Linked DNA regions of Homo sapiens: all the other regions are linked to region 3. Evidence: fine-mapped expression QTL. A gene starts in region 3. Each other region holds a variant in brackets. All regions are shown on one strand. Distances are between the middles of the regions. Region 1 overlaps HLX-AS1 (HLX antisense RNA 1). Region 2 holds the start of HLX (H2.0 like homeobox). Region 3 holds the start of LINC01352 (long intergenic non-protein coding RNA 1352).

Region 1 (8,184 bases), 19 kb before region 3:
TAAAGCAGAGGAAAGAATCAGTAACCTCAAAGACAGGCTATTTGAAAAAACAGGAGAAGAAAAACAAATGAAAGGAAGGAAAATCATCTATAAGTTATAGAAAATTATCTCAAAAGGCCAAATCTAAAAATTATTTGTGTTCAAGAGGGAGCTGAGCAAGAAGAGGTAGAAAGCTTATTCAAAGAAATAATAATAGAAAATTTTTCAAAACTTAAGAGATAAATATCCAGGTACCAGAAGATCAGAGAACACCAAAGAGATTCTACTTGAGCAAGACTACTCAAAGCCACATAATAATCAAACTGTCAAGGTCAAGGAGAAAATCCTAAAAACCACAAGAGAAAAGAAACAAATAGCATATAAAGAGTCTTCAATTCCTCAGGCAATAGACTTCTCAATGGAAACCATATAGGCCAGGAGGACGTAAGATATGTTCAGAGTGCTCAAAGAAAAATACTGTCATCCAAGAATATTGTATCTAGCAAACATAACTTTCACATATGAAGGAGAAATAAAAGTCTTTCCCACACAAACAAAATGGAAATAATTCATAATCAATAAATTCATCTTACAATAAATGTTAAAGGGAGGCTGGGCACGGTGGCTTATGCCTGTAATCCCAGCACTTTGGGAGGCCAAGGTGGGCAGATCACAAGGTCAGGAGATCGAGACCATCCTGGCCAACATGGTGAAAACCCGTCTCTACTAAAAAGACAAAAATTAGCGGGGTGTGGTGGTGCACACCTGTAGTCCCAGCTACTCAGGAGGCTGAGGCAGGAGAATCACTTGAACCCAGGAGGCAGAGGTTGCAGTGAGCCGAGATCACACCACTGCACTCCAGGTTGGGCAACAAGAGCGAAACTCTGTCTCAAAGAAAAAAGAAAGAAATGGTAAAGGGACCTCTTCAAACAAGCTGAAAGAACAAAAAACACTGAAGTCCAAAAAGGAAACATTTGAAGGTATAAAATCCACTGGTAAAATTAAGGACACAGACAAACCCAGAATACCCTACTACTGTAATTTGGTGTGCAATCCACTCATAGCTCTCGTATGAAGCCTAAAAGACAAATATATCAAAAATAATAATATCTACAGCAACCTGTTAAGAGATAGGCAACATAAGAATATGTAAATGAAGACAACATAAAGTCAAAATATAGACGTCCCCACATTTGCAGTTAACATATTAGAGAGTTTTTTCATTTTTTCTTGATTTGTTTGTTTCTATTCTTTTCTTTGTAATCTAAGTTATCATCTCTTTAAAATAACTTGTTATGTCTATAAGATGATTTTTGTAAGCCTCATGATAACCACATGTGAAAACCTATAATAGATCCACTTTTTGAAAAAAGCAACAAATTAAAACATACTACCAGAGAAAATAACCAATAATGAAGACAATAAGAAAGAGAAAAGCCACAAAACAACCAGAAAATAAGCAACAAAATGGCACTAGTAAGTCCTTACTGCCCAATAAAAATACTGACTTAAATAGACTCAAATTCTCCAATTAAAAGCCATAAAGTGGCTAAATGGATAAAGAAACATGACCCAAATTTGTGCTACCTGCAGGAAACCCACTTCACCTATAATGACATGCATAGACTGAAAGTGAAAGAGTGAAAAAAAATATTGCATGCTACTGGACACCAAAACAGAACAGGAATAGGTATACTTACATCATGCAAAACAGACTACAAGTCCACGAGACAAAGAAGGTCACCATATATGGTAAAAGAGACAATTCAGCAAGAGAATATAAACTGAAAATCTATGTATGATAAAGGAGACAGTTCACCAAGAGAATATATGCATGCACCCAACATAGGAGCTCCCAAGTATATAAAGCAAACATTAATAGATCTAAAGGGAGAGATAGATTTCAACACAATAATAGTATACAACTTCAACAACCCACTCTCAGTAATGGAGATATCATTAACAGAAAATCAACAAAGAAAATCAGAGTTAAACTACAAACTAGACAAATAAGCCTGACAATAACAGATCATTTAACCCAATGACTGCAGGATTCACATTCTTTTCATCAGCACAGGGGAGATTCTGAAGAACAGACTGTATCTTGGGCTACAAAAACATATCTTAGGCTACAAAACAAGTCTCAACAAATTCAAAAAAGTAGAAATCATATCAAGTATTTTTTCTTATCTCAATGAAATAAAACTAGAAATTAATAATAAAAGGAACCTCAGTAAATGCACAAACACATTAAAATTAAACAACGTGCTCTTGAAGAACCAAAGGGTCAATTACAAAATTTTTAAATTTCTTGAAACAATGAAAATGGAAATATAACATATCAAAATATGGGATGCAGCAAAAGCAATAGTAAGAAGGAATTTTATAGCAATGAAAGCCTATGTCAAAAAAGCAGAAAGACTTCAAATAAATAACCTAACAATGCACCTCAAAGAACTAGAAATGCAAGAGCAAACCAAACTCAAGATTAATAGAAGGGAAAAAATACTAAAGATCAGAGTAAAAATAAATGAAATTGAGACTAAAAAAATACAGAAGATAAACAAAATTAAAAGTCTATTTTTTGAAAAGATAAAAATGACAAATCTTTAGCCAGACTAAGGAAAAACAAAAGACTCAAATAAATAAAATTATAAATGAAAAAGGAGACATGATAGCTGAGAACACAGAAATACAAAGACCATTAGAGATTATTATGAACAACCACAGAGCAATGAATTGGAAAACCTAGAAGAACTGGATAAATTCCTGGACACATAAAACCTACTAAGATCGAACCATGAAGAAAGAGAAAACCTCAGCAAACTAATAACAAGTGATGAGATAGAGGGCTTAATAAAAAAGTCTCCCAACAAAGAAAAGCCCAGGCTAGGCGTGGTGGCTTATGCATGTCATCCCAGCACTTTGGGAGGCCAAGGCAGGAGGATCATTTAAGGCCAAGAGTTCAAGACCAGCATGCACAACACAGCAAGAACCCGTCTCTACAAAACATAAAAATAAAAAAAAAAAGTAGCTGGGTTTGGTGGTGCATGCCTGTAGTCCTAGCTACTTGGGAAGCTGAGACAGGCGGATCACTTCAGCCAAGGAATTCGAGGCTGCAGTGAGCTATAATCACAACACTGCACTCCAGCCTGGGCAAAAGAGCAAGGATTTGCCTCTATTAAAAAAAATGTTTTTTAAAAAAGCCATGACCTGATGGCTTTACTACCAAACTCAACCAAACATTTAAAGAAAAACTAATACCAAACATTCTATTCAAATTCTTCCAAAAAAAGTTGAAGAGGAGGGAATCCTTCTAAACTCATTATGTGAGGCCAGCATTACCCTGATACTAAAATGATACTAAAATCAGACAAGGACACAAAAAGAAAGAAAACTGTAGACTAATATTACTGATAAAAATAGATGCAAAAATTCTTAACAAAAACCACCAAACTGAATTCAGCAACTCATCAAAAAGAACATTCACTGTGATCAAGTGGGAGTCATCCCAGTGATAGAAGAACGGTTCCACACATGCAAATCAATAAATATGATACATCACATTAACAGAACCAAGGACTAAAACCATATAGTCATTTCAATAGATGCTGAAAAAGTAATAAAATTC[A/G]GCATACTTTCATGAGGAAAAAACCCACAAACTGGGTATAGAAGGAACATATTTCAAAGTAATTAAGGTCACATTGACAAATCCACAGCTAACTGATCATACTGAACAGGGAAAAATTGAAAGCCGTTCCTCTAAGATCTGCAACAAGTCAAGGATGCCAACTTCAAGTCAAGGATGCCAACTTTCACCACTTTTATTCAACGTAGTACTGGAAATCCTGGCCAGAGCGATCAGGCAAAAAAGAAATATAAATCATATTTAAATTGAGAGAAAGAAGTCACATTAGCCTTGTTCACAGTTGACATGATCTTATACTTAGAAAATCCTAAAGACTCCACCAAAAAAGGATTAGAACTAATAAACAAATTCAGTAAAGTTGCAGGATACAAAATCAACATACAAAAATCAGTAGCACTTATATACCCCAGAAGTCAAGAAAGTAATTCCATTTACAATAGCTACAAAGAATATAAAATACTTAAGACTCAATCTAATCAAAGAAGTAAAGATCTCTACAAGAAAAACTATAAAATACTGAAGAAATAAATGGAAAAGGAAATGCAAAAATGGAAAGACATTCCAGTTTATGGGTTGGAAGAATTAGTATTGTTAAAATGACTATTCTACTCAAAGCAATTTACCGATTCAATGCAATCCCTATCAAAATACCAATGACGTTTTTCACAAAAATAGAAAAAAGAATCCTAAAATTTATATGGACCCACAGAAGACCCCCAATACCCAAAGCAATCCTGAGTGAAAAAAAGAAAGCTGGAAGCATCACACTACCTGATTTCAAAATATGCTACAAAGCTATAGTAAGTAAATCATCATGGTATTGGCATAAAAACAGATATGTAGACCAATGGAACACAATAAAGAACCTAGATATAAATTCATGCATTTATGGCCAACTCATTTTCAACAAAGTTGCCCAGAACATGCAATGAGGCAAGGACAATTTCTTCAATATATGGTTCTGGGAAAACTGAATAACCATATGTAGAAGAAAAAAACTAGAGCCCTATCTCTCCTCATATACAAAACTCAAACAAAATGCATTAAAGATTTAAATCTAAGACTTGAAACTATAAAACTACTCAAAGAAAATATTGGGGAAATGCCCAATGGCATTGGCCTGGGCAAAGATTACTTGTGTAAGACCTCAAAAGCACAGGCAACTAAAACAAAAATCAACAAATAGGATTATCAAGCTAAAAGGCTTCTGCACAGCAAAGGAAATAATCAACAAAGTGAAGACATAACCCATAGAATGGGAGAAAATATTTGCAAACTATCCATCTGACAAGGGATTGAATAGCCAGAATATATAAAGACCTCAAACAACACAGTAGCAAAAAAACAAATAATCCAATTTTTAAATGGGTAAAAGACCTAAACACAAATATCTCAAAAGAAAACATACAAATGGCTAACAGGTATATGAAAAAATGCTTAACATCACTAATTATCAGAGAAATGCAAACCAAAACCACAATATGATATCATCTCACCCCAGTTAAAATGGCTTTTATCAAAAATACGAGGAATAATGAATGCTAGCAAGGATATGGAGAAATGGGAATTTCGTACACTGTGTTTGGGAATGTAAATTAGTACAGCCAGTATAACAATTGTATTGAGTTTCCTCAAAAAACTAAAAATAGAACTACCATATGATACAGCAATTCCACTACTGGGTATATATCTAAAAGAAATGAAATCAGTATATTGAAGAGATGTTTGCACTCTTATGTCTATTGCAGCATTATTCACAATAACCAAAATATGGAATCAACATAAGTGCCCATCAGTGAATGAATGGATAAAAAAATGTGGTATATATAAACAGTGGAATGCTATTCAGCCATAAAAAGATGAAATTCTGTCATTTGCAGCAACATGGATGGAAGGTCATTATGTGAAGTGAAGTGAAGTAAGTCAAGCACAGAAAGACAAATATCACATGTTCTCATTCATATGTGGGAGCAAAAACAGTGAATTTCATGAAGATAGAGAGTAAATTGGTGATTAGCAGATGCTGGGAAAGGTAGTGAGTAGGAGCAGATGAAGAGAGGTTGATTAATGAGTATAAATATGCAGTTTGACATAGGAAATAAGACCTAGTGTTTGATAGGTGAGTAGTACGACTACAGTTTACAGTACCCCATTATATATTTCAAATAGCTAGAAGAGAATAATCTGAATGTTATTAGCATAAAGAAAAGACAAATATTTGAGGTGATGGATACCCTAATTACAATGATTTGGTCTTTACAAATTATATTAAGGTATTACATTACCACATGTACATCCATATGTATATCCATTATGTATCCATAAAAAATAAAATATTTTTTAAAAGAAGGTGGAAGACCTAGATTCCTTTTCATTTAAGTAAGGAAAAATAAACAGTTGGGAATGTTTCACCTGATAAGAGAAGTGAAAACTATGCACATGTGTAATGGCCCATCCTTCTTCACCGTATATTTGAAAATGTGTCCTGTATGAAAAAGAGTACCGTGATTCAGGTTTTAAGATTGGGGGAGTAGAGACAAGGAGTAAGGTAACCATTAACGGAGCGAATGAGAGAAAGACAATATGAAAGCAGGTTTTAGTCCAGTAAATTTAAAAAAAAATTTTTTAACACTAAAATGAACTTCTTCTGTGATTTTCCTGTCACAAAAAGATATTTAATGGTAATAATAGCAGCTAAATAGTAATTATTCTGGTACAAGCACTGCATCAAATCCTTTACTTGTGTTGTAATTTAATCCTAGCAATATTTTATGCAAAACACACCAGAAATCATCTTTACTGATACTTATTTATTTTTATTTTTGGAGATGGAGTCTCATTCTGTTGCCCGGGCTGGAATGCAGTGGTATAATCTCAGCTCACTGAAGCCTCCATCTCCCAGGTTCCAGCGATTCTCCTGCCTCAGCCTCCTGAGTAGCTGGGATTACAGGCATGCACCACCACATACAGCTAATTTTTGTATTTTTAGTGGAAGTGGTGTTTCACCATGTTGGCCAGGCTGGTCTCGATCTTCTGACCTCGTGATCTGCCCACCTTGGCCTCCCAAAGTGCTGGGATTACAGGCATGAGCCACCACACCTGGCCAATACTTTATTTAAATAAATATTTGACAACATCTATCCAGTTTAATGTATTCTACAAAAGAAATCCCAAGGACACACAATATTTTCCTTTTAAAATGGTTTAATATATGTGCACATAATATTTTCTATTTTTTCTTTTTTAACTTTATTAATTTTGTTTTTGCTATTATTCTTAAGTTGAATGCTTTCATTATTTTTCAATCTTTTATTTTCTAAGAAAAATGCATTTTAAAACTGCAAAATTTCTTCTGAGTATTGCTTTGATTATGTCCCATTTATTTTGATAAGAGTTCTCATAATTTATTTCTAAATAGTTTTGCTTTGCTTTTATACCCAAGAACATAGAGGGATATTTTATACTTCCAAGTGGACAGATTTATATGTGTGTGTTTATGTGGCTAGCACTTTCATTAATTTCCATTTTTATTGCTTTGCACTAGGAGAATGCAACTTGCATGACCCTGTTTACTTTGGAATTTGTTGATATTTTCTCTGTGGCTCAACATATGAACTGATTTTGTAAATTTCTGTATGTTTTTTAAAATGTGTTGTCTTTTTGAATACCAACTTTTACATATATCTATGAGATATGTGTATGTTATTCAAATGCTATTACTATATAATACCTTCTTTTTGTGTAGTCTTATTTTTTATGCATCATTAGGTTCTCCTTATATTTCTATCAGTTTTGTATATTTCGAAGTTGTTAGATTCATGAAGTTAAGTGACTTCTTAGTTAACTGTCCTTTTTTTTTTTTTTTGAGATGGAGTTTCACTCGTGTTGCCCAGGCTGTAGTTCAGTGGTGCCATCTCAGCTCACTGCAACCTCCGCCTCCCAAGTTCAAGTGATTCTCCTGCCATGGCCTCCTGAGTAGCTGGGATTACAGGTGCCCACCATGCCTGGCTAATTTTTGTTTTTTTAGTAGAGACAGGGTTTCACCATGTTGGCCAGGCTAGTCTTGAACTCCTGACCTCGTGATCCTCCTGCCTCAGCCTCCCAAAGTGCTGGAACTACAGGCGTGAGCCAGCACATCCAGCCATGAAGTATACTTTTAATCAATATAAATATGTCTCATTTTTCCTTTTATGCATTTGGCCTTAAATTCCATTTTATTTTATATTGATACTCTAAAATTAGCTTATTTAAACTTAATTTTAAATTTTTGAATAGTGTTATATTCACAGAGTTCAACCTTGAAAATGTACAAAAGCATATCTAAAGAAGTAGGCTCTTCACTCTGGTATCCCCCAGACACAGAATTTCCCTCCCAAGACACAGTGTTATCTGTATGTTGAATATATATCTGGATTGGGGTTTGGGCAGGGAAAGCAGGCATGTGCTTGAGCCACCATCTTGATTCAGACTGTGAATATTATTCCAGTGGTGTGAATATAGCTAGAATACGTTCTCTTGCATCAGCCTAGAGTTGCAAATTCACATGTTGGGCCCAA
Region 2 (8,184 bases), 48 kb before region 3:
GTGTTAACTGTCGATTCCACCCTCATTCAGAAAGCCCTTCGCACATACACCGAATGGCCCCTCTAAGGAGGAATTTTACACGACAGTCGGAAGACCTAAAGCGAGCGTGGAGTGGAGAAGCCTGGCGGCTTGTCCTTTAATTCCAAGAGAAAAACATAAACCTCATGCGTGGCCATCAGGCCTACGAAGAGTAGACAAAAATGTCCCTTGGGCCTGAATGATGACAGCCCTGAATTGAATTATCTCGTGTGTGTGTGTGTGTGTGTGTGTGTGTGTGTGTGTGTGTGTGTGTGTGTTTATTCCCGCATGTGTCCAGGCACCCAGACATAAACTCGCCAAGCACAAGTGTTTGAGGTCATCCCAAAATGTGTATATGCTAATAAGCAACATTGATGCTGCATTTTTCAAGCCCTCTGGGGCGAAAAGACTTCGAGAAAGCCCCCCACCCCACCGTCCACGCACACACTTTCTGGGATCTCCAGGCGCCTCTACCCCTTTTCAAGGGGAACCATCCGAAGCGAGCGCTAGCTCGCTGAGAAATCTTTCGGTTTCTCTCTCCTGACTCCGTAGCCTCCCGCCCCAATTGTGAGATTGCGACACCGTGGCAGCCCTGGAGGCGTCAGTCCTGAGATTTCTGACTGTTAGTCGGCTCGCCCGTTAGGCAGTACTCTGGAGTTTTTCCGTACCTGGAAACGTGTCTTGGAACTGATGCTGAACTGAATTTCTTGGGTTCGAGTTTAAGGGACTCAGGATTGCAGAAGCCTCGTTAATGGGATCTAGAGATGCGAAGAACTGGCCGGCCGAGGGCTGCAGGCCTGAGAGGTGCACCCCGGCGGGCCGCCCACCGGTTAGCAGGGAAGTGAGATCTGGGGACAAGGGAAAAGGATAGCAGGTTACATCTCGGGCACACTCACACTCTCCGCTGATTTGTTCCTCCCCTTCCCCTTGCCCTGGATTCACTTTTATTGAGCGAAGTCAAGAGAGAACCCGTCTAGGCGCTGAAACCTCTCTCTCCCAACAGTTGCCAAGGAGCGACGCACGAAAAGTTCCTGTGTGTCCCTCACGTCCATATGCATGTATATAGTAAGTAAAGGCTTTACATAAATCGGCTTACGGCCTCACTTTCACGTGTCTTCCAAGAACGCCACAGACGCAAAACCTCCGCCCCAAGGTGGCCCCACTCTGCCCGCTCATCTAGGCGGTTTTGTTTATTATTTACATTTCCTGGGTGAAATTTTTACTAGAAATCAGATAAGTGCGAAAGTGTTTCCCAAAAATGCTTTAGCTGTCAGAAAATATAATTCTGTCTCTAGATACATTATTAAAGAGATCAAAGTCATGTTAGCAGATAATTACACCAACCACTTTTATAAATATTGATTCTAAGACGTGTTTTTAAAGAATCCCTGGAGTCATTTTTTGTTTGTTTTACATAGAACAGGTGAGTTTTAGACCTAATGTTTTGTAGTTTTCTTACAATTCGTTTTCTTCTCTCCCGTTTTACCGATTTGTCCTTAATTGTAAAAACACTCAAAGGCACCCCAAGCCAGCCCGGGGTCCGGGGAGTGGGTCAGTGGTCAGAGGCCTGCAGCCTCCCGCCCAAGACCTACCTCTCAGCGTGTTGCCTTCTTTGACTTTTGGGTCAAATTCTGCAGATAAAATGCGGTCAATTCCAAATTTGAGGTCTTTGCTGGAGGGGGCCGGGGCAGAGCCACTGTGGTGGGGGTTCGGAACCACTCGCGTCCCCGAGGCCGGGGGCTGCAGGGCGCCAGCCCGGGGCGGAGGCGGAGGCTGTTGCTGCTGCGGCTGTTGCTGCTGCTGTTGTTGTTGCGGGTGATGGTGGTGGTAGGCGGCTGAGAGCGGAGACAGCCGCTGCGGGAAGCCAGCCGGGACTTCGGAGGGCGCCACCACTGGGGTGGGTCGAAGCGGGGATCTGGCCGCCGCTTGGAAAGAGGCGTGCGGGTGAACCGAGCCCAAGTGCGCGGTGAGGGCGGCGGCCGAGGCCCCTGCCAGGCCCTCCGGGGCCGCCCCCAGATCCCCCACGCCGGCGTGCAGAATGTCTGCGATGCAGAAGGAGGGCTTTTTGACGGCGGCGGGGTCCAAGGGGAAGGAGCAGCCGCCTGGGCCGGCCGAGGAGCAGTAAGCGGCCGACCAGAGGCTGAAGTTGGAGGCGTAGAAGGGAGCCAGCCCGGCTGCGAACATCCTGCCGGGGTGAGCCGCGCGGCTGCCGCAGTCCAGCCGGACTGGGTGGGTGGGCGCGCGGGGAGGGGCGCGCGAGTCCCGGAGAAGGCGGCGGCAGCCGAGGACGATCCGCTTTCGCTTCTCCGCCCGCACTGAGGAAGAGAGGCCGGGAGCCCTAGCGCCACCGAGGGAGGAGGCGAGGGCCGGATCTCGGCCGGTCACCGCCTCGCTCCCTGGCCTCGCTTTAAAGGCGGCGCGGCGCCCGCACTCCTCGCGGGCTGGATGAGAGCGAGGGGCGCTGGGGCCGCAGGGCGGGCGGGGGAGCCAGGGAGACGGGAGCCGGACACCGCAAGAAAACCCAAATAGCTAAGCCCTAAGAGCTAAATTTAAAACAACAACAATAATAGTCCGTTAGTTAGGGGGGGGGAAAAGTAATAGAAAAAAAAAAAAACTCGTCTCTAAAAACTCCCAAAGTTTTGGCAGGAGCTTTCGAGTCAGGCCCGGGGTAGGACCTCGATCCGAGCGCTCATTGGTCATCCTCGTGACCAATGGGAGCGGGGAGTGGAGGGGAATTAGGAACAAGGGGGCCTGGCCGGACCCTAGCCACGCCCCGGCCACGCCAAAGTTTTTGCTGCGGCCGCGTGGGCTTAGTAGCGCACATCGCAGTGCTTCTTGCTACTCTGCGTAGGGGCCAGGCAGCCGCTCCGGAGGGCTCTGACTCTCTTCTAACTTCTGCAGCTCCGAACCGCCACGGGGCAAGGAGGGTTGATCACAGGAGCTTTCCTGAAGCGCTTGTCACCCGGGGCGAGTTGGGGGCGTGGGGAAGGGACGGTAATCTCACTCTTTAGGGCTCTGCAAAGCCCGCCTCCCGGTGGAGAGCGGAGCGCGCTTTGGCCCCTTTGCTTCCCTTCTCTTGACCTCATTCTGCTTTTATTCCAGGAGTCCGTGTCCTCGGCAAAGCCCCTCATCTTTCCTGGGCCCTTGCCCAAATGTTGCCGCCCTGAGTCCCGGCCCAACTCAGCACCGCGTCCGCCTCGTGCCTCCCAGGAGATCCTCCGGGAAGCGAGGAGGAGGGGCGGCCGCAAATTGGTTTTATTCTGAGCTGTCACACAGTGACAAATTGAACGAGTGACTTTTCAAACAAAATAAGACGGATGGCTCCAAACGTCTCTCTTAGACGCAGCCAAACCTTTCCCCGGAGCCTCAGAGGCTACAAAACAGGCTGCCTCCCGAAACCCGGGAGAGCGGCACGCGCTTCCATCCTTTGCAGGAGGTTGTAGGAAATGTTAGCCTCACCCCTCCACCACATCTCCGGATCACGTGGGGTTCGTTGTTTTGCAAGTGCCCACAAGAGCAGATTTCCGTGGGGTTCAATACTGCTTTCAATTCTGTGACAGCTTCCCCAGGAACCCCTTGGGCCTGGTTGCA[G/A]GAGGAGCTGCGTGGTGGTCAACGTCTTCCATTCGTGCCTTGGGTCTTTAGAACGCAGGGTAGTGGTGGTGGAGGTTTTGTGCAACATCGACATATCTATTTTAAGAATTTCTTCTCTTTAAATTATAGTCAGAATGAATTTCCCCACCCCTCTCCCAAACAAACCACAGGCCACCCAGATGAGCTGTTCTTGCACATTTTCAGGAAGAAAATAAAATAATACGAATAATGAAACCACGAAAACTTTTGTTTTCGATTGCCCTAATAAGCATCTCCTAACAGGGATTCTGTGACATTTTTATTTCCCTTCAGCACGAAGGCTCCTCACCAAATAAACCCAGAAAAGCAAGTGAACTTGCCATGCCTATCTCGAGTTCAGGGTTTGGGCTTATAAAATTAATTTCTGGTGTTTTCTCTAGCCCCTTGATGCAGATGCTATCCTTTTAAGCTTTTGACTTTCTCCTGGAAAATTATCAATCACTTCTGATCAGCCAGCACTAAGATCTCTCCCTCTCCCTCTCTCTCTCCCTCCTCCCGCCCTCCAGCTCTCCCGCTCTCGCTCTCCATCTCTCTTTTACTGAAAGGTTTTCTTCCCCTGCTCCACGCAACCAGGAGAGAGGTGCTATTTCCAGAGATAGATGGGTGTGTTTGGCTGAAGGTAGGGGTACCTGGGGCGAGAGACGTATTAAGACCAGTTTTTCTGTGTCAAGGTGAAGGCAAAGGAGCGACAAGTACAACATGGGCAATTGAGGCGCTGGCTGAGGGTTCTGGTGAGCCTTCGGTGGGAGTGTGCGTAGCGGAGGCCGTGAGCCCTCTGCTTTCTAGTGCCACTTCCAGTTTGATTGCGTTTCTAATTTGACTGCAAACATTTAGACCTCAGCCTAAGCCCAAACTCACGGTTGTGAAAGAGGTGCATTTACTCCTTACCCGAGGCAGCGCCGCGCGCCCTCACCCTCTCTCTTAAGAAATAAGACTCCCCTATCAGCTTTCACCCTTTCCAAGGTTTGCGACGCTCCGGGGTGGGCACGGGATACAGACCCGGGGGAATGCGAGTCCTCAGGGTTCCCTAGGTGCCCACAACTCGCATCTGCCGAGATTCAAGGCCCGGAGCGCTGGGCAGATGCGGCGAAAGCGAGGCCCCGAGGCCCGCCGACTCCTCGCGGCGCCGCGAGCCTCCCTTTCTCCGCCAGGCCCGCGGCTGGAGTGCAAGTTGCAACTTCGCCTGCGCGCCCCTTGCTCTCCCAGGCCTCAGCTTCCTCGCAACCGCGTCGGCGCCATCCAAGGCCTTACTCCCAGCTCCCGGAGGCAAACGCGAAATACAAGTCTTTGGAGCGACCCCCGCCGCCCCCTCTACCCCTTCCCCAGGCCCAAGCCTGGCCCCTGCAGGCCCCTCGCCGAGTTCTGAGCCCGCAGACTCCCGCCCTCCTTACTCCCCACTCTTCAGAACCAAGAAAGCAGCAGGAAACCCTGGGCTCGCCGGAGTTCAGGTCATCTCCTGTTTTTTGATGGGCTCAAACTCGGGACTAAATGAGCGGATGTGCCTGCGAGATTGGTCTCAAAATAGAAGCGGCCTTAGTATTTTAGGATACTGCAGAAATCCTTATTTCTTCCGGAGAAAAACTCTATAATGACTCCTAGCACTTCCCCTTTCAATATTTGTGCAACTTTATCTCCACCGGCAAGTTGCTCGGGTGACGCAAATCCGCCCTTATGTATTACAACTACCAAAATAAATGCACGGAAATCAATTCCCTTCTAGCAATGAAAATATAAATATACAGCTGCGACTTTCCCCTTTAATCTTTGCTTTCCGAGAGGCTCCGGGCTGTGGCGAAATGAACTGGCCCAGAGCTACTGAGCCGGGCAGGGAGGTCCTGGGGGTAGAGGCGAGGGCTCCCCAGGGGCTGGTAGCCATGGGGGTTGAGAATTTAACAGGAAAGAAAAGGGCCTGGCTAAACCGAATTAACTTGAGCTTGGTCTACGCAGCGGAGACCCTAACTGTGGCCTCTTTTCTTTGGAAAATATCGCATTGGCTGGGGTTTCTGATCATGCTGACTGCTGTTTTTAATGCTTTCAACTCATCCCTTCACTTTTCCTAGTTAAACACAGCCAAAGACGATTTCACCATATTGGGAATGGATAAGATCAGAGAAGGTTCGTTTTATAATTTAACAATATAGCTTATGGGGATTTAGGGTTTAAAAGGGTCCTGAATCAGGGGCTTATGCAATGACTGAGGCAAGAGATGGGTTTCACCATCCTTTGGTTCTACCTGTCTTTGGAGCCTCCATATTTAAATCATCAGTGCAGACTTTTGTCCCAAAACCAGAGTCACAGATCCACACTGAGCACAGGTCAATTATAGTGAATGCTGGGCCTTGTATATTACAGGACCATAACTCTTCAAGGACTTGAACTGGCTATATCTGCTATCTGTGTTGCTTTTTCTTGTGCATTCTGGGTAAAATAATGTGCAAGGCAGTTGCTCTGTGGACTTCGGAACCCCTCTCCTCTTAATTTCAAATATTCTTGCAAACATGGTACCTACTGGCTTCAAGAAAAGAGATGTAAATAATTAAATATTTACAATCAGAAAGAAAAAGAAACACAGCTTATCCAGCTACTTGAGAATTCAAGAAATTTGCAGCAACGTAGGAATCTGTGTATATTGTGCCTGTCTTTCTGCCAGCTGGAGACTTATGGATCACTGGTCCCAGCAGTCATACTTAGTGGTGGATATGGGAGTTCTGTTCTTTGTGGGTGCCAGATACTAGAGATTAGGACTCTAATGATCCCCCATAGACACACCCCCTACCCACACACGCATACTTTGGCCTATTCTAAGTAGGACACAACTCTCTTTCCTTGGAGACCTTAGAGTTATTCCAGAATTTCTGAGTTTTTGAGAAGAATTGGACTTTGCTATGGGGTGGGAAAAGCAAATAATGCAATAGGGCTACAAACATCCATAGCTATTTGATTTATTCTTTTTCCTTTTCTCCATTTCCCAGATGTGGCAGATTTGCAGGTGGCCAGCTCTCTATTTGGCTGTGGCCCTGCCCTTGAACTTTATCCATAGGTCTTGCTCCAAAGTTTCAGACAGCCTTTTGGCTCTGATTCCATTTGCCCTTTCCTCTCATAGGGCTTCTCACATATTTCCCTTCCTCACTACTAAGATATACCACTTTACATATATGTACCTCTCTCTCTCTCTCACACACACACACACACACACACACACACTCTCTCTCTCTCTCTCTCTCTCTCTGGGAATCTTAGAAATGTGGAGGGGAGGGGAGGCAGGCAGTTTGGGATTTGCTCCTGTTTCAAAGAGCTGCTTCTCTGCCTCTCCAAGTCATCCTCTCTACATCCAGCCAAGAAAGACCCCAAATCTCATAAAACCTATGGCAGAACCCATTTCAACATGGCACATTATAACAGACTCATATACATTTGCAATGAAATCATAAGAGTAAAATATGAGAGACTATCTGTAGCATATATGAGCTTACATACTTCATTGCACGGGCTTCTATTTAGTAGCTGTAAACAGTGCTCTCCCACTTCCCATACATTAGCCACTCACCTTGGATTTGTTGCCTGAATTATTGAATCTGAATGGCTGGTTGTTAAGGTAGGAGAAGGAGGAGTAGGTGAAAAACATATATCCAAAACAGACAGGGATGAAAGGCATTCCCAAAGCAGTATTTCTCTAAACAAACAAATAAACCTTCTTCCCTGTGAGACAGGTTTTCAAGTTAGAGCACAGGTTCTAGGGCCAGAAGAGGGACTCAGGCCCAGACTAAAAAACAGTCATGGGAAGGGATCTTCTGAAGGGAGAGGATCCTGGAGCCAATGAGAGGGATTTTGCAGATAAAGCCAATGGGTTGTTGTCCCCATCTCAGTGGTCCCAATCTGCCTACCAGCACCCGCCAGAACTGGGACAGCCCTGGATTTAATGACGGAGTCCCCCCAGCCCTGTCCCAGCCCACCAGGCCCGGGCATCTCCCTCCCTGGAGGAGCCCACCTAGTACTGAAAGTTGGTTCTCTGCTGACACCTGCTGGACCATCTCTACATTGTTTTATGGCAGTAACCATCCTGTGCCAGCAACATTGTTATGATGAAAGTTGACTCTTCCTTTTGCAAAAATGCAGGTTTCTAAAACTGGCTTTGACTAGCAGCTGTTTCCTTCCATATTGCAACAATATGGGAAGATCTTGTATTGTGTGCTTAAAATCACTAGACCGGGCAAGGGAAGCAGTCATGGTTCAGGAATAATACTGTGTACATTTTACAGATCTCAAGGTCAATTCACATTTATTATCTCACTTTTTTAAAATAACCAACTGTAGGATGCCGACGAGGGATTATTATCCCATTTGACTTTAGGAAGTTGATCCTCAGAAAGGTTAAGTGGCTTGCCCAAGGTGACGTAGTTGGGAAATGGTGTTGGAGGGAACAGAGGCTAGGTTTTCTGGTTCATCAACCGGTATTATACCATCCAGCCAATTTCTTCAGGGGAAATGGTTTATTCAGAGGAAAAACTCTCTGCCCTTAATCAGAATGTGTATTGA
Region 3 (8,184 bases):
TCCTTGGTCCAGTCAAGCTGACATAAAATTACTCATCACACCCAAAGTGTCTGTGACATTTTGCCCTCCCCCAGTCTCACCCTTACCATGTCTCCCACCCTCACCATGAAAATCTCTACAGCTTTTCTCTTCATTTTCAGGATCTGGCAACTTCCTCTCACTTCAAGATTGGGCTTTGGGAGGAAGCCAATATCCTGTGCTAGCTCACCACCTTTTTTGAAACTGGAAGCTTTCAAAGCATTTAATTTCTACCTGACATAGGAAACTCCTAATTGTAAGATTACTCTAAGACATTTCTTTAAAAGGTACAGAAGACTCATTAGCAGTTTTCCAACTTCTCTAACCTGAAAGAAGTATGAGAGGAAAGCACCGACTTGTTATTAATCAAGCTGTGTCTGCCTGGTTTTCTGTGGATGTGTTTTGTTTTTAATAAATGACTGCTGATAGTTGAAATTCAATATACTAGCCATAAAAGAAATGTGACAGGTCATGGGCCAAAAGAAGTTAACTGTAGGAAGTGGAAATTTTGAATAAGACAATGAGATTCAGTGAGTGATAAATATAGTGTATCATGTGAGCTTTTAGTCCCAGAAGAAAATAATTTTATAGACTTAAAGTTATTGATGGTGCCAGATTTCCCTTCCCCTGAGGGAGCATTTCCTAGCCTTTCATCCAAACCTTCCCTTACTCCACACCCTGCACTCCTTTTCCTAATGGGTTTCTGAAGTCCCAGTTAGAGAATGCTGCAGGGTGAACGGAGAGGCGCTGTGTGTCAGCCTAAAAAACAAATCCAGAGAAATCTGCCAAGCATCAAAGTGCTGTTAAAACCTGGATCTGGTCTCTGGTGTGGTCTGTTTGTGTTTTATGTTGCATTTCAAGATGTTTGGAGCAGCCCCTTGGTTCTTGAAGAAGAGGGAAGTAGATGAGATTTCAACTGCACTATTACTCATTCCTTTGTCCTGTGGAGAGCAGAGTTATGGCTACTGTTGCAGAAGGAGGCATGATTATGTTTACTCATATATTTCTTTGTGTTTTTCTTCCTACCAGGCCAGGTGGTCTCAGAAGAGGCAACTGGTTGCCAGGAAGCACAGTCTATGAGACCCAGAAGTAACTCTGGAGATCCTCCAATTACCTCTCACTTTACAGTGAAGGAAACTGAGGCCCAGATGGAGTCAGTAGGTTACTTGAGATCTCACAGTTGCAGAAGTGGACTAAAAGCCAGGTGATCTGATTCCTAAACCAATGGATTTTCCATTACACTGAGAATTCACACATGAAGTGAAGTCCTTTAAGACTTTACTTTAAGACTTTCCTTTAAGTCCTTTAAGACTTTCACCTGTTACATAAGAGTATGTTATTCATCTTGATTTTTTTTTTTTAGATGGAGTTTTGCTCTCGTTGCCCAGGCTGGAATGTAAATAGTGTGATCTCGACATACTGCAACCTCTGCCTCCCAGGTTCAAGCGATTCTCCTGCCTCAGCCTCCCGAGTAGCTGGGATTACAGGCACCTGCCACCACGCCTGGCTAACTTTTTTGTATTTTTAGTAGAGATGGGGTTTCACCACATTGGCCAGGCTGGTCTAAACTCTTAACCTCAGGTGATACACCCACCTCAGCCTCCCAAAGTGCTGGGATTACAGGCATGAGCCACCACGCCCGGGCTTTGATTTTTTTTTTTTTTTTAATGAATTAATGGCCTTGGCTTTCAGAGGTAATGCTTTTATTCCTATTTATTTCTACAGTTTGCTCCTTTAAATTACTCCTTTCTTGGTGGTGGGGAAGTTACTGGGTAGAAATAAGATAGCCTAATTTGAAACAATTAGCCTTAGCTTTTATTTTTTGATGCAAGGGTTTATAAAGCCTAAGTTGAGGAAAAGCTAGAGATGGGGCACAGAGACCTGCCCTTGCTTTCCCAACCCTGAACGACACACAGTCAGTGGGTTGTTCACTCAGTTGTCAGCCTATGTGCTTTCCTAGAGCTGCTGTGATGTGTCAAGTTGTGTACAATGCTGGGCATATGAAACTAGAGTATATGATTTCATTCTTCAGGCAGCTGAGAAGACACAACCCAATGAATCAATTTCTTGCCAGCATGTTACATGCCATAATGGAAGTATACACAGGTGCTGTGGAAGCAAAAAAGAGACACCTAGCCCAGGAGACATTGATTATATCACACTCATTCTCATTTACACATGTGTTGGGTCTTAGTTATCTATTTTACCAGCATTCTACATAATACCAGCTCATGGTAGTTGACAAATAATTGTTAAATGAAAGAATGCATAGCTAAGCATTACTGATTTTGTAAATATAGTCTAGAATGGGAAAGGACCCAGTACTTTGCTTACACCCACAGGTAACCAACCAGCAACCACAGGCCTGAATCTGATGCACCGTCTTCTGCTCGTGCCATGGTTTTTGTTTTTGTTTTTTCTTAATTGAGTCATCTTTACTTAAAAATGCTAATTTCCAGCTTCACTTGTAAGATCAGAATATCTGAAAACACTTTACACTTATTCCAAAATGACTCCAACTGGTTGGAGCTAAGTAGAACTTAGAGCCTATGATGATTAATTTTATGTGTTGATTTGACTGGGCTAAGGGGTGCCCAGATAGCTGGGAAAACAATATCTCTGGGTGTGCCTGTGAGGGCGTTTCTGGAACAGGTGTTAATCAGTAGACTGAGTAAAGAAGATCCACCCTCACCAATGTGAATAGGCATCATCCAGCCCATTGAGGGCTCAAATAAAACAAAAGGCAGAGGAAGGGTGAATTCTGTCTTCCGGAGCTGGGACATCTTCCCTTAGATATCAGAGCTCCTGGTTCTCAAGCCTTTGGACTTTGGGACTTACACCATCAGTTCTCCTTGATCTTATGCCTTTGGATTCAGACTTAATTACGTCACTGGCTTTGCTGTTTCTCCAGCTTGCAGACAGGAGGTGGTGGGTCTTCTAGGACTCCACAATTGCATGAGCCAACTCCCATAATAAATCTCTTTACATATCTATCCAATGGGTTCCATTTCTCTGGAGAATGCTGACTAACACAGATCCCCTTCGATCAAGCACGAGCCCTGAGTTGGCCATGGTCCTACCTGTCATAATGAGAGAACTCTTCTCATTTGTGTTATGGGTCCTGGAGGCATTTGATTATTGGTCTGGTCATTCACAGGAAACCCATGTAGAAACAGCAAGCATACCTAGGAAAACTAGGAGAGAATTCCCAGAGTTCTAAGGGCTTATAGAAGTGCAGTGTCAATGAATGCAGGATTGAACCAAGCTGGAGAGAGGGAGGCTGGCCTGCAGAAGAAGATATCCTTTACTGGTACCTGAATTGGCTCCTGCCAAGTTTATCTCTGCTGATGAGGAAGCTTTGCCTCTAGTTTCTCTCCTGAGAAGGGAGAGTTTCAATCAACCTTGGCTTTTCATAAAGGACTTGGGGCTGCTGGCTGAATAGCCTGTGTGTTGGGGTTCACCCATGGGGATTTTCAAGGAGGCCTGAATCTTCTGATCCATCCAATCTCTCATTTTACACTTGAAGAAACTGAGGCTGAGAAAGGGGAAGTGACTTGGCCAAGGCCACACAGCAAGGTCAAGATCCAAGACTAAAACCAATTGCTTCTCTGTTTTGCTTATTACTACAGCACAGAAATAAAGAAATAGAGAATGGGAGAGGAGAGGTAGGTGTGGGGAGGCGATATGAAAACATGGAACAAGTGCTCTGCTTTTAGAATAACTAGAACTTTGAGCCCAGAAGATTTCTTTTCTTTTAATAAATAAATGTTTTATAATCTTACTTCTGTGGCTGGTGGGAAAAAAAGTCCTTCAAGTCCCCAAGGAATGTTAGGAAAACCTCCATTAAATTCTAGTCTTCAAATCTGAGTCATAATAACTATAATAAACTCTGGGAGTGTTTCCTTAGAGTTTCTCTTTTAGGGTGGAGAGGAGGCAGCAAAAAGAATAGGCAAGTTTTCACAAGAAAAACTTGTAAATAGGCAAGTATAACAAGAAAATGTATAAACCGGGATGGCTTCATAATTAGGCATAGCCTAATTGTGCTTATGTGTCTAGTCAAGAAACTCTATCTAGAGTTCCAGGGGAAGAAGGTGTTGGGGATGAGGGAGTAGGATTGGTTTGAGGGTAGTAGACTATATAAGGCATCATGCTCCTTCCCATGGAGGGGATGTATGATGGTTAATATTAGGTGTCAACTTGATTAGATTGAAGGATGCAAACTATTGTTCCTGGATGTGTCTGTGAGGGTGTTGCCAAAGATATTAACTTTTGAGTCAGTGGACTGGGAGAGGCAGACCCACCCTCAATCTGGGCGGGCACCATCTAATCAGCTGCCAGCACAGCCAGAATAAAAGCACACAGAGGAACATGGAAGGAGTAGACTTGCTGAGTCTTCCAGCCTTCATCATTCTCTCGTGCTGGATACTTCCTGCCCTCGAACAACAGACTCCAAGTTCTTCAGCTTTTGGACTCTTGGATTTACACCAGCAGTTTGCCGGGGGCTCTGGGGCCTTCAGAAGGCTGCACTGTCAGCTTCCCTACTTTTGAGGTTTGGGGACTCGGACTGGCTTCCCTGCTCTTCGGCTTGCAGACAGCCTATTGTGGGACTTCACCTTGTGCTCATGCAAGTCAATACTACTTAATAAGCTCCCCCTCATTTATACATCTATCCTGTTAGTTCTGTCCCTCTAGAGAAACCTGACTAATATAGCATGTGTATGTGCTTTTCCCTTTGCTTGGAATGCTTGTCCCCACTCTGACCCTAAGCACCACCACAACCTTCCTTCCTGGAGCTCAGGCTGTTATCCTCCAGGGCTCTGCTGATTCCCTGGGCACCCCGCACTCTGCTTCACAGCACTCATCACATTTGTCACTTGTGTAATTTGTTGCTTATCCCAGGCTTCCGTATTACATGATAAGCTCCATTAATGACAGTGTTGTCTGCCTTGGTTTTGTTCATGATGAGCACAGTGCCTGGCCCACAGTACCAGCTCACTAAGTATTTAGCAAAGGGCTTTATGAGGTCATCCCTGGCTCCAGCACCTCACAATCTTTATGGTGACTGTTCAGAGGGCAGCTAAGCAGAAAAGAAGTTTTCAACAAGGCTGTTTCTGGCCTGTTTTCCCTCTCAGTACTACATGGCAAGTCACGTCTCCAAACTGAGGAGTGTGCCTGAAGAGTCAGGTCTGGCAGAGAAAGGATTTCTTGCCCTAGGTTTAAACAAGCAATGTCAACATAACTTCCAAAGGCATCGGCTGCTTGGAAGAAGTGAATCCCTTGGGTCATTCCCTTGATTATTGTGAACCCGTGGCTGAGCAGGACAGAAATGTCACACAGGTGGACTGAGAACAAAATGATTTCAGATATGGGAGCCCCAAAGTGGCATCCCAAGGACAAGTGCTCAGAATTGCATGACTTGGTTTTCTGTTGAGCTATTCTGTCTTGGATAATTACAGCATGAGCTCTTGGCCAGTGGTGGGAATTAATTGGTTTTAATTCTCCCGCAAAGATTCTCTTAAGTAAAAGTAAAACATTTGCAAACTGGAGTTCTTTGAGTTATTGGTAACAACTTACTTTGCACCTCATAGCACACTGGTTAATAGCCTCCGCCAAATAACTAATATTTAGGCACTTTGCTAATGTATGCAAAGTGCTTTTAAGTATTATGCTATTAAATCTTCACAACATCACAGGTAGGTATTAGCACCATCTTACCTATTTTATGGATATCCAAACAGAGGTCTTCAAAAGTTAGAAAATCTGCACAGTCACAGAGCCAGTGGAGCCACAGCTGAGGCATGGACAGGCTGCTCTCCTACCACCTGCCAGGCCGCTCTTGCCCAGCTCATGAGGTCCAAAGTTTTCTCAACAAACTGCTTGGTGTCGATGTTGTAACCTGGAGCATTGCCCTGCAGCAGAAAGGCAGGCCTGGACATTCGCATGTCAGCATGGGGCGAAGCTGATAATTTCCAGTTGGGATCCAAGAAAAAGAAAAGCTCTCCACATGCCAACAACATTGTTATGAAGCTCTCTTGACCCAGCTACCCAACAGTGATCTCAAACATTTGGTCTCTCCAGTGTGTGTATGGGGGTGGGGGGCAGCTGGGCGTGTAGCCTTGTACACTTTGCACTTGGAGAGGTAGGGACAGGGGTCTAAATTAAGGGAAACCCTGCCCAGGGGCTGGCTTTGGGAAGCATGCCCAGCAGCCATGTGGAAGTTCACTGCATTACGGTGAATTACACCAGGTGGGGTGAGTACAGGACAAGGAAGTAGAAGTCAGAGCCTGCTTTTCAAAATCACCCTGCAGGCTGTTGTCCCCAGAAGAAGAGATCAACCTCAGGGGAGACCAGAGTCCTAAACACAAAACAAAAGAGTAATAAGGGAGGAAGCAAATGAAGTTGCTTATCTCATTTATTTATTTTTCTCTCCCATTTCCGCCTATGCTCCTCCAACTGAACCCCCCCTAGTCTCTGGTTTCCTGGCCACTATCTGGCCAATAACCTCCACATTAGCATCCCCAGCCCCTCTGTGCCCCCTGTAATCTCTTCTCCAGGCTTTGCTGAGGACTGTATTTACTGCCACACAGGATTTCCGTAGGTGATAACAGCAGGGCCTGGTTGGCTTGACCCTCTGTTCAGAGCCAACCCTTGGCTTCTTATGGTGTCCTCTTACAGCAAGGGAAGAATCTTAGTTTCTCCCAAGAATGTGACTCTCTTTAAGTGTCTTACCTACACTCAACAACTAAGCAAGCCTCTTGATGAGCAGCCCTTCACTCTCACATCCTCAACACTGTGGACTGAGAATTTACATTTTTTTAAAAAGGCAGGGCACAGTGGCTCATGCCTGTAATCCCAGCACTTTGGGAGGCTGAGATGGGAGAATCGTTTGAGGCCACAAGTTTGAGACCAGCCTGGCCAACACAGGGAGACTCCATCTCTACAAAAAAATTTTTAAAAATTAGCCAGGCATGTGCTACTTGGGAGGCTGAGGCGGGAGGATTGCTTGAGCCCAGGAGATCGAGGCTACAGTGAGCTGTGATCACACCACTGCACTGCAGCAGCGTGGGTGACAGAGCAGGACCCTGTCTCTAAAAAAAAGTAAAAGATAAATGTAAAATCAGGTCTGTTCTGCTCTGTATGTGTATGGGTGCCCCACATGGAGAGCCAAGAGACATAAGAGGTGCTGAGGGGAATTTTCCAAGGCGGGTCACCCACTTACAAATCTCTAATCTGGGGACTGGATTGTGGGACGGACCTGCAGAACCCACCCCTCCAGGACTCTGACAGGCATCGTCAATCCAGGTCCCCACAGGAAGGGGACCCTTGATGGCCATTCTCATAGAACATGTCCCCACCCTACCACATTCGCTCACCACAGGCTGCTAGCTTTTCACTCAGAAACATATGTGCCTTACAGGGTGATGTGTTCTGTTTTTTAACTTCCTACTAATGTGTAATGCACATTCAGACAAGTACACAAGTCGCAAGCTCAATACATTTTCACAAAGTGGACAGACTTGGGTCATCAGCACCAGATCAATAACAGAGTATTTCCCATGGCCAGAATCTCTTGTCTGCACCTGGCCCCATCACCGCCCACCTCCTTCCCACCCAGTGTAACCACTGTCCCGACTTTGAGCACCACACATCAGGCTTGCCTCCCAGGGGTCACTCTTTAGAAGCTGATTCCAGAGATGCACAGAAGACTTTACTTTTTCTTCATCAGCAATGCCTGAGGCTGGGGAGGCTTGTGGAGCCTGATCTGGGTGTTCTGTGTTACTTTTAACTGTCAAGATCCCTAACACCTTAACACCACGTAAACCAGAGGAATCATAGGGACAGGATTATCTCAGAGAGAAACACAGCGGTGGGCAGCCGGCCAAGTGTGGAGGAAAGTGAGATGAGATCAACAAGAAGGCATTGTCAAGAGTCAGGAGCTGCAAGAGGTCGGGGCCCCCAGGGACAGACTGCAAAGAAGGCAGGAAACTTAAATATATGCTCATACTTTTACCAAAAGGAGAGAGAAAAGAATTCCAACCCCTTCCTGCAGTCTTCATCCCATCATTGTATCTTTCAATTTCTTCCCCATTCTAGAGACACTATTGTAAGCAAAGCCACACCCTCTACCTCTTTAAACACCCATTGCACAATAGAAATATAATGTGA

The links.
Region 1: its variant is fine-mapped to the expression of LINC01352 in transverse colon (GTEx, PIP 0.99).
Region 2: its variant is fine-mapped to the expression of LINC01352 in fibroblasts (GTEx, PIP 0.95).

What each region holds. Positions count from the first base shown.
Region 1 is chr1:220,844,861-220,853,044 of GRCh38, reverse strand. The region is part of intron 1 of HLX-AS1 (HLX antisense RNA 1); the gene reads left to right. Among named protein-coding and RNA genes, the nearest start is that of LINC01352, 20 kb to the right of the region's middle. The variant A/G (reference allele first, on the strand shown) is at 3,611.
Region 2 is chr1:220,873,876-220,882,059 of GRCh38, reverse strand. HLX (H2.0 like homeobox) reads right to left here and starts at 2,617. Exons shown (of 4, transcript NM_021958.4): 1 at 1,611-2,617; 2 at 687-866. The coding sequence starts at 2,202. HLX-AS1 (HLX antisense RNA 1) reads left to right here and starts at 1,920. Exons shown (of 3, transcript NR_046901.1): 1 at 1,920-2,211. RefSeq lists an enhancer at 1,284-1,892 and a silencer at 3,011-3,060. The variant G/A (reference allele first, on the strand shown) is at 3,610.
Region 3 is chr1:220,826,056-220,834,239 of GRCh38, reverse strand. LINC01352 (long intergenic non-protein coding RNA 1352) reads right to left here and starts at 4,985. Exons shown (of 4, transcript NR_110797.1): 1 at 4,798-4,985; 2 at 3,333-3,547; 3 at 2,857-3,098; 4 at 1,811-2,127. It overlaps HLX-AS1 (HLX antisense RNA 1), which reads left to right. Exons shown (of 3, transcript NR_046901.1): 2 at 1,048-1,222; 3 at 1,382-1,477. It also overlaps the pseudogene RNU6ATAC35P.